Linked DNA regions of Homo sapiens: region 2 is linked to region 1. Evidence: fine-mapped QTL for protein levels in blood plasma. A gene starts in region 1. The other region holds a variant in brackets. All regions are shown on one strand. Distances are between the middles of the regions.

Region 1 (8,462 bases):
GCGGCAGGTGCCTGTAGTCCCAGTACTCGGGAGGCTGAGGCAGGAGAATGGTGTGAACCCAGGAGGCGGAGCTTGCAGTGAGCCGAGAACGCGCCACTGCACTCCGGCCTGGGCGACAGAGCGAGACACTCCGTCTCAAAAAAAAAAAAAAAAAAAGAAAAGAAATCCCATCTCAACTAAAAATACAAAAATTAGCTGGGTGTGGTGGTGCACACCTGTAACCCCAGCTACTCAGGCGGATGAGGCAGGAGAATCACTTGAACCCAGGAGGCAGAGGCTGCAATGAGCCAAGATGGCGCCACTGCACTCCAGTCTGAGTGACACAGCAAGACTCTGTCTCAAAAAAAAAAAAAAAAAAAAAAAGGTGCAGGAGAGGTTCTCAAATAAGTGTTGCCCTGCTTGCCTCCAGTGGAAATTCCCAAGAAGAATCAACAAAGGACCTTGAACCATCCTGGCTAACACGGTGGTGAGACCCTGTCTCTACTAAAAATACAAAAAATTAGCCGGGCGTGGTGGCGGGCGCCTGTAGTCCCAGCTACTCAGGAGGCTGAAGCAGGAGAATGATGTGAACCCGGGAGGTGGAGATTGCAGTGAGCTGAGATCGCGCTACTGCACTCCAGACTGGGCGATGAGAGAGACTCCGTCTCAAAAAAAAACCCAAAAAAACAAAAACAAACAAAAACAAAAACAAAAGACCTTAAGCCAAGTAACCATTAACACAAGTTCTGATGCCCAGGGCCAGGCACAAAGTTATTGGCAGCAAGAACTACACCTAACTGGCCACTCCTAAAGGACCTTTCAAGTTTCTATTCTGCTGAGGAAATATATGATCTGGCCTGGTGTTGAGCAACATTACACATTTCAGGACCCTCCAAATACCAGGATTTACCACCTGGGTGGGGAAAAGGAAAAGAAAAAAATCCTGCATATCTGCAGCTACCTGATATAAGGATTTCCCCAACAGCCAGCCGTAACACACACACACACACACACACACGCGCGCGCGCATGCTCTCTCTCTGTCTCACACTGTAATGTGCAATTTATAAAGAACTGTTACGTGTTACCATTTACTAAATGGAGCATATGTTTAAGGTAGGGGTCACAAGCCAAAGGCCTACAGAGACAGAGGGCAAGCAGTAGCTGAGATGAGGCAAGCTGAGTAAGATCTACAGGCTAGGGAATGGCATATCTCCTGCCTGAAAGAGGTACTCGGCTCCTGCCAGGGACTGCTGGGCAGGAAAACAGGCCTGTGTTCTGGTTTGGTTCCATTACATCTTCATGTCTTTCAGGCAAAGCCAAAAACTACATTTTTACGTTTAAAAAATCCCAATTCTGGAAAAAGTACAAGTCACATAAAGGCTGTGTGAAGCTTCCTGGGAGTGGACAGTTTATAATCTCTGCGTGCTTTCCACTCCAGACGGTAACTGTCCCTAACGCTAGATAGGGGAGCTTTCTCACCTGGCATAAGCTCAGCTTTCCCCCCACCTCTGTCTGCAGAGGTTGGAGTCAGGACACTCTTTGTCCGGCCCGTCCACCTGTCCCTTCCCACCTGCCCTCACTACTCAGAGCGTCACCAACACATCAATCATAGACCACATGATGCTTCTCACAAGAAGCCCCGACCCCTGAGTTAACCCTCACTCTCACACGGTGGGGCCTGCTTTGTCCCCATCTCCCCTCCCCCAACTCCTGGGCCCTCTGGTACTCAGGACTGGTCTTGAGCAAATCTTCCATGTCCTCAATCTCCTCTGAACATTGTTGCCACCCTCTTACCTAATTGGAATCTCCCCTGAGGGCACACCTCCTGGGGCCCTTCCAAGTGGGGAGGTCTCCTTGCTCCTGGGAGCTGCTTCTGGACTGTTCTCCCTCCACCCTCCCCAAAATCCCCAGCTGGGAGACTTCCATTATTAGAGTAAATCATTCACTACCCCGCCTGGCACGTTATCTGCCAACCCAGACAACTACTTCTTCCTTCCCAACTTTAGCTCCGGGCCTGCCACCTCTCCCGCTGCTCTTATGATCATTCTTGGAGATTTCTATATCCAGGTAGATGGTCCTCTGACCTCTAGGTCCCAAGACCTCCACCTGATCTCCTCCCACCCTCGCCCCCCCGCTTCCTCTCAGGGTCACACCTAGACCTGTCTCAGTAACTGCCACCTCTTCAGAACCTCCCTCTCATGCATCTCACTCACTACCCACTGCATCCTATCTGTCTGGTTCATTCCCTTCAGAACCTCAACTCCAACAATCTGCTGGCCCTACCATCTACCTCGGCCCTCCGCCCCCTCATGTTTTCATACAGAATAAATTCCTTGACCAACCCCCATCCTCCCTCCCTCACACATTCTCTGTTCACTCCTCCCTCACCACCACACTCATCCAGCAGCACCTGAGCCACTGCATGGAGCTTCAGCAACACCACACTCCCAGTGGATGACTCGCTTCCGGAGAAAACAGAAGCAATCAGGAAGGAGCGAGGAAAAAAAAGTCAAAACTGCCTTCTGCCTCCGATTAAGCTGTTCAAGCTTTCAAACAAACAGAACTTACGATGAGTGAGGGCATGAGTTCACCCAGTCAGACACTAGTACTTCTGAAAGGTCAGTAGGTCCAGTCGGCAGCAGCAGTCAGGTAGGCCACTCTGAACAGAGAAGGCCTCTGCAGTGAGACCTGGCTTTGTCAATTACTACTACCGAGTGACCTCGGGCAAGGCAAGTAACTTCACCACCGCACCCGGCTGTTTCAAAGGTTAAATGGCACATCCCAGCTCAGAGTAAGCACCAGAGGTAGCAAGAGGCCATGTCCCAGCTCAGAGTAAGCACCAGAGGTAGCAAGAGGCCAGGTAACTGGGAGGTACATCCTAACGTAATTACTTAAACTGAAAAAGTCCAGCAGAGCTGCCAAATTCTGGTTCGAATTGCAAGAATGATCAACGTCTGCATTCCTGACTCCCAGTCACCTACAGCTGAGCCTCTCCCCACCAATTCACTTTTTTCTCCTGCCTAGGGCACAGAGAAATTAACCAGTCCCCAGAAGTTACCACAGGTGATGACTTGGTACACACCTAGCCTGCTCTTTTTTTTTTTTTTGAGACTGAGTCTTGCTGTGTCGCCCAGGCTGCTGTGCAGTGGCTTGATCTCAGCTCACTACAGCCTCCGCCTCTGGGCTTCAAGCGATTCTCCTGCCTCAGCCTCCCGAGTAGCCGGGACTACAGGTGTGCACCACCATGCCCAGCTAATTTTTGTATTTTTGGTAGAGACGGGGTTTCATCATGTTGCCTAGGGTGGTGTTGAACTCCTGGCCTCCAGTGATCTGCCCGCCTTGGCCTCCCAAAGTTCTAGGATTACAGGCATGAGCCACATCACCCGGCCTTCTTTTTTTTTTTTTGAGATGGGAGTTTCACTCTTGTTGCCCAAGCTGGAATGCAGTGGCGCGATCTTGGCTCACTGCAACATCCGCCTCCCGGGTTCAAGCACCAGCACCTGTCTATAAAGCCCTAGGCCATCTGGCTGCAGCCAACCTCTCCCACCTCCCATCCTCCTCCAGTCCTCCCCTCCTTCACGCCTGCTCCAGCCAGGCTGGCTCTGTCTTTTCCCTGAACCCAACCAAGCTTGTTCCAGCTTCAAGGCCTTTGTACTCTATTGCCTGCAACTGGACACTGGTCCCCCAGGTCTCCGTGTGGCTACTGCCTCATTCTTCATGTTAGAGCTCAGATGTCACCCTCCTCACGGAGACGTCCCCCGACCACCTGAGCTAAAGCCGCCCCCAACATCTTACGTCACCCTGTTGGTGTACTTCACCTGGTTCATTTAATTCTCAGTAACTTAATCTCATGGCAAGTGCTTTTTAAACCTTCACTAGCTCTGCCTCTCCCACTGGAATATTAGCTCTGTGAATGCAGGAACCCAGCTAGTCTGAGTTAACTGTTATAACCAGCGCCAGTGCCTGACACGTAGCAGGGCCTCAGTAAGTTTTGCTGAATCAATGAATTCTTGCTTTCAAGAGAGCTCTTTTCAAAACACGCTGGTGCTTGTCTGAAGCAGTTAAGGTTATAACAACACTTGTTCAAAGAGACCTTTCAGACCACACTTCCTTAAGAGTGTAGAAGTTTAAATCACCTTATTCACCACCGACTTCTAAGGGCCAATCCAAAGACCCCAACACCAGCTGCTCAACGCCAATACTCTCTCGAGCCTTAGCAGAGCTTCCTCTTCCCCAAAGCTTGTTTCCTTTCTTGCTCCCTCCTTCTCGGGCACCTACTTTACTGCAACTCAACTACAAAAACTTCAGGGGAGGCTCTTGTCCAATCTCCAAAGAGGCAGGGGTGAGATGGGCTTCTTCCGAGTCTAAAACGGCCACCAGGTCACCCAACCCAACCCCCACCATCTCACAGGCCTGGCCTCTCCCTGAGCTTTGGCCATGGAACTTTCCACCGCCAGGAGAAGGCTGGTCTTCAATTCGGCTCCTCACCCCGTTCTTGCCACAGGAAGGGGCAGTGCCACGCCTTCTTGGTCAATACCCCTTGACTCTTCCTCCACCCGAAGGAAACTCTCCTAACCCTCGCTCCTCCGCCCGTCTTCGCTGTCGAAGGCTCCCAAACCTCATTTCAAGGCTCAATCCTCCAGGGCTGGTTCCACCACACCCGCTGAACGCCATCAAGTAGCCCCCAGTTTCCTCCCCCGCCAGTTCTCCCTGCTCAGACCCCCGTTGACCCCCGAGCCTCTGCCCCCTGCGCCCCGCCTCCAGCCTACCCGCCCGGCCCTCACCGTGGATGCTGCGTTCTCGGTCGGCCGCCAGGACCCCAGAGAGGAGCAGCGATCCCAGCAGGGCGAGAAACGCCCGGCTCCGCCTCAGCCCGCACAGCTGCGCCATGGCCAGCTCAGCCGAGACGCGCAGGCGACGCCACCAGCCGTTGGGGTCTCGCGATCAGGTGCGGGAAGCCCCTCAACGCGCACGCGCAATGGAGCGCCTCGCGTTCAGGTGCCGACGCTCCGGGAGGGTCCGCCAGGTGCCAAAGCCCCCGGAAGTCGCCTTTCCGGACCTTCAGTGTGGGGACGCCCGGCCTTCTCGGCGCGCGATGCCTGGGTCTGCTCCTCACTCGCGCCCTCGCCGCCTGCGACACTCAACGGCCCTCAGCGCGTTCAGAGCCGCGCTACACCTCCCAACGCGCGGAGGTCGCCAGAGCCAATGGCGAACGCCTATTGGAAGCGGCTCCCGAAGGTGGCCGGGCAGGCAGGGGGCGGGGCGCACCTGGCTAGGCAGGGCGAGCTGGGCGCAGGCGCAAAGGGCAGGCACCTGCGCGGCCGCTCCCCGGCCCTGGGCGCACCTGGGCCCGCCCCTGGTGCCGGGGAAGAGGCGGGGCTTGCGCGGGCCTCGCCCCCAACAGAACCTGGCGGGGCGGGGCGGGGCGTCTGCCCGCTGAGCACCTGCCACCCTTCCCTTGGGCTTGGTGACGACGTCGGAGGAGGGCCTTCGCTCTAGGACTGGCCTCAGGGTGGGAGGAGGGGGCGGCAGACACGCGTTTCTTGGAAGCCTGTGGTTTTCTGCCCGCCTCGCCGCAGCTTTCCTGTGAATTCCTTCCTGAATTTCAAAGTTCACTGGGCTCATGCTCCAGGGCTTAATGCTGGGGACCCAGCGGTGGCCATGCCAGACTGGTCCCTGAGTCACCAAACAGGAACGGCCCAGAGTAGTGATAGCGGAAGCTTAGCACAAAGTGATGAAAGCTGTGATGGGGAAGGCCAAGCTTAGGGATCAGAGGCTGGGTCGCTAGAAAACCAGGGCATGATGGGAGCCCAGACAGCTTTCCCATCCAGCCTGAGAGAGGGCCAAGGAGGGCTTCCTGGAGGAGGTGATAGGCCCATGCAAAAACAGCCCCGAGCCCTGGCTCCAAGGTTCTCAGGACAGATATGGAGACAAATACTTAGCACAGGCAGCATCAGAATTGAGAGGAAGGAAGCCCCTGGGGAAACCCAGAGAAGACACCTGACCAAGCCTGGGAGTCAAAGAGGGCTTCCTGGAAGAGGAGTTACGTGAACAGACTCTAGAAAGGGGAATGGAGTGGGGCAGGCACACGAGTAGAGGATAGCCAACAAGGTAATCAACATAAATGCATTATTATTGAAAACACTTTTAGATTATTTCTTTTTTTTTTTTTTTTTGAGATGGAAGTTTTGCTCTTGTTGCCCAGGCTGGAGTGCAATGGAGTGATCTTGGCTCACTGCAGCCTTGACCTCCTGGGCTCAAGGGATCCTCCCACCTCAGCCTCCCAAGTAGCTGGGACTACAGATGTGAGCCACCACATCCAGCTAATTTTTAAATTTTTTGTGGAGACAGGGGACTTGCTATGTTGCCCAGGCTGGTCTCAAACTCCTGGCTTCAAGGGATCCTCCTGTCTCATCCTTCCAAAAGTGTTGTATTACAGGCGTGAACCACCACACCTGGCCTGAAAACACTTTGACAGTGCTATACAGAAAAGGAATCAGGGGCTGGGATGGAAAATAACAAGAGATCTTTTGAATGGGGTGGCGGAGGAAGGGCTTTGTGAGGGGTGGCTTTGATAATGAACTCTGAAGGATGATAAAGGCCAAGGGACAAACATTCCAAGAATCAGGAATGGCACATGCGGAGGCCTTCAGGCAGGAAAGAGAATAGTGTGTTCAGGAGCCAGGGCCACTCCCACTCTTCAGCCTCCCTCCTAGCATAATAATACATGAAAAGCCGTAACTGAGTTATCAAAATGGTATTTACCTTAAACAATGGAAGTCTAACCTTGCAATGAGATCATGGGACTCAAGGTGGAATCTGAATGTGAGGCCAAAGGTCTCCCCCAGCACTTGAATCTCCCACTGCCACTCAGGCCTACTAAACCTAGGCTTGAGCATGAAAACAGAGAAGTATGTGCTGAGCCGTCAAGGCTTGGAAGAAGGTATAGGCCTCTTCTTTCTTTATTTTATTTTATTTTGAGACAGAGTTTCACCTGTTGCCCAGGCTGGAGTGCAATGCTGTGATCTCAGCTCACTGCAACCTCCACCTCCTGGATTCAAGCAATTCTCCTGCCTCAGCCTCCTGAGTAGCTGGGATTACAGGCACCACCCGCCACCACGCCCAGCTAATTTTTGTATTTTTTGTAGAGATGGAGTTTCACCATGTTGGCCAGGCTGGTCTCGAACTTCTGACCTCACGATCCGCCCACCTTGACCTCCCAAAGTGCTGGGATTACAGGCGTGAGCCACTGCATCTGTCCAGTTTTGAACTTTAAACACAAAAACTCAAAAGGAGGGCTGAGCGCAGTGGCTCATGCCTGTAATCCCAGCACTTTGGGAGGCCAAGGCGGGTGGATCACGAGGTCAGCAGATCAAGACCATCTTGGCTAACACGGTGAAAAAATCAAAAAGATTAGCCGGGCGTGGTGGCGGGAGCATGTAGTCCCAGCTACTCGGGAGGCTGAGGCAGGAGAATCTCTTGAACCCGGCAGGCGGGGTTTGCAGTGAGCCAATATTGTGCCACTGTACTCCAGCCTGAGCAACAGCGCGAGAGTCGTTCTCAAAAAAAAAAAAAAAAAAAAGAGGCCGGGCTCACACGCCTGTAATCCCCAGCACTTTGGGAGGCCTGGGCATCTCCATATCTGTCCTGAGAAACATTCCAAGCATCAACATTCCTGATGCTTGGAATGTTTGTCCCTTGGCCTTTATCATCCTTCAGAGTTCATTAAAAAGAGGTGGCTCACGCCTGTAATCCCCAGCACTTTGGGAGGCCGAGGTGGGCGGATCACGAGGTCAGGAATTTGAGACCAGCCTGGCCAACATAGTGAAACCCTGTCTCTACTAGAAATACAAAAATTAGCCGGGCGTGGTGGCGCGCGCCTGTAGTCCCAGCCACTGGAGAGGCTGAGGCAGGAGAATCGCTTGAACCCGGGAGGTGGAGGCTGCGGCGAGCCGAGATCGCCCCACTGCACACCAGCCCGGGCGACAGTGTGAGACTTCGTCTCAAAAAAAAAAAAAAAAAAAAGAAGGGCCGGGTGCGGTGGCTTATGCCTGTAATCTCAGCATTTTAGAAGGCTGAGGTGGGCGGATCACGAGGTCAGCAGATGGAGACCATCTGGGCTAACACGGTGAAACCCCGTCTCTACTGAAAAAAAGTACAAAAGACTAGCCGGGCGTGGTGGTGGGCGCATGTAGTCCCAGCTACTTGGGAGGCTGAGGCAGGAGAATCGCTTGAACCTGGGAGGTGGAGTTTGCAGTGAGCCGACATTGCGCCACTGCACTCCAGCCTGAGCGACGGCGCGAGACTCGTTCTCAAAAAAAAAAAAAAAAAAAAAAAAAAAGAGGCCGGGCGCGGTGGCGGGCGCCTGTAGTCCCAGCTACTCGGGAGGCTGAGGCAGGAGAATAGCTTGAATCCGGGAGGCGGAGGTTGCAGTGAGCTGAGACTGCACCACTGCCCTCCAGCCTGGGTGACAGAGCGAGA
Region 2 (3,928 bases), 27 kb before region 1:
GGCGGCAGCAGCCTGAAGAGTGTCTGCTGTGGTGAGGCCCACCAGTCGCCCTGGAAAGAGTCCAGAGGCCCGGATGGAGTTGAGCTGCCAGGAGCGGAGGGGCTGAGGCCTCCCTTGCCGTGAGAAGGGGCAGGTTTAGGCAGGAGAAGTGGGTCACAGAGCAGCAGCTTCTGCACTAGAAACATATAAAGGCTCATTGTATTAGAAACCTACAGAAGCTCAACTGGGCTTCAGAGAATTCCCTTCATCTAACTTCCTATTATGGTAGAATTAAGTGATTCTCAAGTTTTTTTGTTGCTTTTTTGTTTTGAAAGGAGTCTCGCTCTGTCACCCAGGCTGGAGTGCAATGGCGTGATCTCGGCTCACTGCAACCTCTGCCTCCCAGGTTCAAGCGATTCTCCTGCCTCAGCCTCCCGAGTAGCTGGGATTACAGGCACCCGCCACCACGCCCGGCTAATTTTTTGTATTTTTAGTAGAGAGGGGGTTTCACCATGTTGGCCAGGCTGGTCTGGAACTCCTGACCTCAGGTGATCCGCCCACCTCAGCCTCCCAAAGTGCTGGGATTACAGGCATGAGCCACTGTGCCCGGCCAATTCTCAAGTTTTTAAAAAAGTCCAAAGGCACAATTTTTTTTTTTTCAACATGACTGAGATAGGAGACAGTCCATATTGGAGTTGGTGGAGAAAGACTCCTGCTGGGCAGAGGTGCATGTGCAGACTCTGCAGGCTTGCAGGGGTTAGGGGCCGCGCCCACTGCCACACACAGAGCGCTGCAGGTGGAGAGGCTCTGCCCAACTCCCAGGCCCTCTTTCCCTGGACCACAGGCTCGCCCAGACCCCTGTGTGTCTGATTTGTCTGGGACGTGGTAAGTAGATTCCACTTGTTCACCAACCCCGAGCCAGCTGCAATGACCACTGGAGAGTGGGCTGAGGCATGCGGGGATCAGCTGGGAGGACACCAGGATCCCTTTGCGGCATCTGCTGTGAGGGAGGCGGGGCAGGAGCAGATGAGCTATTTGCCCAACTTGCTTCTGGAAGAGAGTTTTAAGCCCTAAGGGATTTCTAGGAAGGGCCAAGGGAAAGACATGGAAGTTCTTTGGTTCCAAGCAGTCGAAAGCAGTCTGGCCTGTGGCACTGCACCTGGCCACTCCTCCTGTGTCTCTGAGGCAGGTAGAGTCCAGCTGCTTGCCGGACCTCATGGGGCGCCCAGATGCCTGTACCCCAGGACCTCCTTGTTGGAATAGAGGAGGGAGGAAAGGGGCTTCTAGAGTCTAGTGTCAGGAAAGGAACACCCACAGGAGGCAGCAGGATTGGGCCTGAAGGCCAAATTCAGCCGGGCAGTTCTCTGTCCCCGTTCCCACACAGGGGTGTGTTGGAGACTTGACAGAAAAGCCCAGGGCAGGCGGTGCAAGGCCTGACCTAGAGCGCCCTCCCACCACCCCTTCAAGATGCAGAGAGCACAGAACCACGAGAGGAGAAGCGTCATGGACGCCACAAGGACTCGGTTAAGCCCCTCCAACCCCGGAAGGTCTTGGTCCTCCCTGGACAGCATGCGCCCCTCCTGCGCCCTCGAGGGCAGTGCTTCAAGGTGTGGGCTACAGTCTATAGTGGGACATCAAGATCAGTTCAGAGGGTTGTAGCCAGAAGTTTTAAAAAGTGAAATAGAGTAATAAAATATCAGTGTTCACAGGTGGTGAGGCTAAGTGTGGTTTGGCGAAAGTTCACGGGCACTCAGTAATAGGACATTTATTTCATCTTGTGGATTCATTCAAAAAGATCTGAAAGACGCTATTTTGAGGGGTCTATTTCTAGAATGGGACACCTCAGATAGTGTCTTGTGATCATTTTGGTAGGGTTGAAATTAGGACTCCCATAAAGAAAGCACATGCTGAAATTTATTCTAAAGGGGAAGGCCCCTTTTTATTAAACTTGTACATTTTACTTTCCTTCTTTCAGAATGCTAATAAAAAACTTTTGTTTATACTTAAAAAAACCATAAATCAGACAAACAAAAGAAACGATTCCAACATCACTTCTGTGATGAGAAAAGAGGCAATGGAATTCAACATAAGCAAAGAAAACTCTACCTGGAGGAAAGAAATCGATCAGCGAGGAAACAACTCGGGGCTGCTGCCAGACTGCAGGCCATGCGAGGAGGAGCCTCCTAGAGGATTTCCAAAGCAAACCCATCCCTGCCAGACCAGGAAGCAGCCGTCCTACCTCCCAGAGAAACAGACCTCAGCCCTAATGATCACTCAAATCCGAGTCAATCCCTCTATTTAAAAAAAGCTCACACATAGTCTCCCCTCCCTTCCCCAGTCCTCTTGGCGACAGGGCGGTCACAGGACATATGTGTTCTTCACCAGCTGCTCCTTGTCATCTCCGGAGCTCCAGACGGTGCGCAGGGCACGCTCCTGGTTCCTCCGTGCCACCCGGATCAGGTAGACCATGGAGGCTCCCAGGAAGAGGATCAACACCATCACGAACAGCCCCGCCAGAA[C/G]CACCACTGAGGACGAGAGAGGGGCCTCAGGACGGGCCAGGCAAGGGGAGTTGCAGCCAGAGTGGCGCTCACCAAGGGCCTGGGGAATCCAGGTGGGCTCAGCCTGAGGACCAAATGCCCCTCCCCAACCCAGACAGGGTCCAGAACTGCAGCTGGAGAGGACACAGCCTGCCAGAGATGCCACCAAGGAGAGTCCCCCAAAAAAGGAGGCGCCATGCTATGTGCGTGCCAGCAGAGTGGCCGTGTCGCCAGCAGAGTAGTCATCTGTGTTCCTTCTTTTTGAACTAAAAACCCAACTCTCAGGGCAACCTGCACAGGAGCCCCAGGCCGAGAGATGCACAAGGGTGTAAAAAACACTTAGCACCGGTGTGTACACATGAAACCTTAGGGGCTTTGTGCACACACACGCTGACCGGCAATAGAGAAAGACGTGGCCCTGCAGGGGCTGGGAGGGCTGAGAGCTACTGCGGGATGAAGTCAGGGTGGAAGCGAGGGGGTACTCAGAGCTGTGCCAGCAAATTTAATAGTGTCTGCCCCACTGCAGTCTCGCTGGTCAGCTCAGATGCTTTTCTTCAGGAGGGGATCCGGCTAAGGAGTGTGACCTGTGGCAGCCTCCCCCATGTGGCTGTGGAGCTGCAGAGTTGGCCTTTTTGGGGCCACCCTCCAGACCCAGACTGCTTGCTTCCCAGCCCCGTGCCTGGCAAACCAGGCTTCACTGCTAGAACAGGACAGACTCGCAGGCCAGGTCCTGGCTCCTTCACCGGGAAACAGGTGGAGAAAGAGGCCAGACTGGCATGGCAGGTCTTTTGTGCCAACATTATCACCTGCAACTCAAGCTCAGAAACACAGGCCAGAGGCCTGGCCTCCCGCTCAGACCAGACTGTGTTGGGAAACACCCTGGCCCGTGGTCCTCCGTCCTGTCACCCGTGACCAACTCTTATGCCCCACATAGCAGCGCTCCCTCCACACCTCAGGCCAGCCTCAGGCCCGTGTGCAGCAGTCCTCAAATGCTCAACAGGAAGACCTCATCCCCAGTCACCCACGCCGCCTGGGCAGGGCCTGCCTTGTGACTGACTCACTCCAGCCCCAACTGTGTACACTGAACGGTGGGACAAACCACCACCTCGCCATTCTCACGCAGAAACATGACTTTCTGCCAAGATGATGTTCACAGTGAAGGATAATGTAAACCACAGCTGGGCAGGGCTGAGCTCAGTCAAGGAAGGGAGGAGGCAGGCTGATGGCAGGAGGAGGGTAAGGGGCCACTTACCCTTTGAGCCAAGGGGCAGGGGAGGATTCTCCTGCTGGCCTGGAAGAGAACACACAGCCTGAGGTCAGCTCACAGCCCCCATTCCACAGAGCTGCCGCAGGGGATCCCCTCAGCCAGGGCCTCCATGGGGAGCTCTTTCTGAGGGGCTTTCTTCCAGCTT

What was found. PIP is the posterior inclusion probability: the model's chance that the variant is causal. Protein levels are from the aptamer-based SomaScan assay of Sun 2018.
Region 2: its variant is fine-mapped to the plasma level of the SPINT2 protein (Sun 2018, PIP 0.95). The variant lies in the coding sequence of SPINT2. If it changes the protein, the assay may bind it differently, which can mimic a change of level.

What each region holds. Positions count from the first base shown.
Region 1 is chr19:38,261,302-38,269,763 of GRCh38, reverse strand. It overlaps SPINT2 (serine peptidase inhibitor, Kunitz type 2), which reads right to left and starts at 5,191. Exons shown (of 7, transcript NM_021102.4): 1 at 4,766-5,191. The coding sequence starts at 4,871. RefSeq lists a silencer at 5,167-5,486 and enhancers at 5,643-6,560, 6,701-7,637, 7,638-8,462.
Region 2 is chr19:38,290,416-38,294,343 of GRCh38, reverse strand. It overlaps SPINT2 (serine peptidase inhibitor, Kunitz type 2), which reads right to left. Exons shown (of 7, transcript NM_021102.4): 6 at 3,769-3,807; 7 at 1,729-2,504. The coding sequence ends at 2,338. Among named protein-coding and RNA genes, the nearest start is that of C19orf33, 12 kb to the left of the region's middle. The variant C/G (reference allele first, on the strand shown) is at 2,499.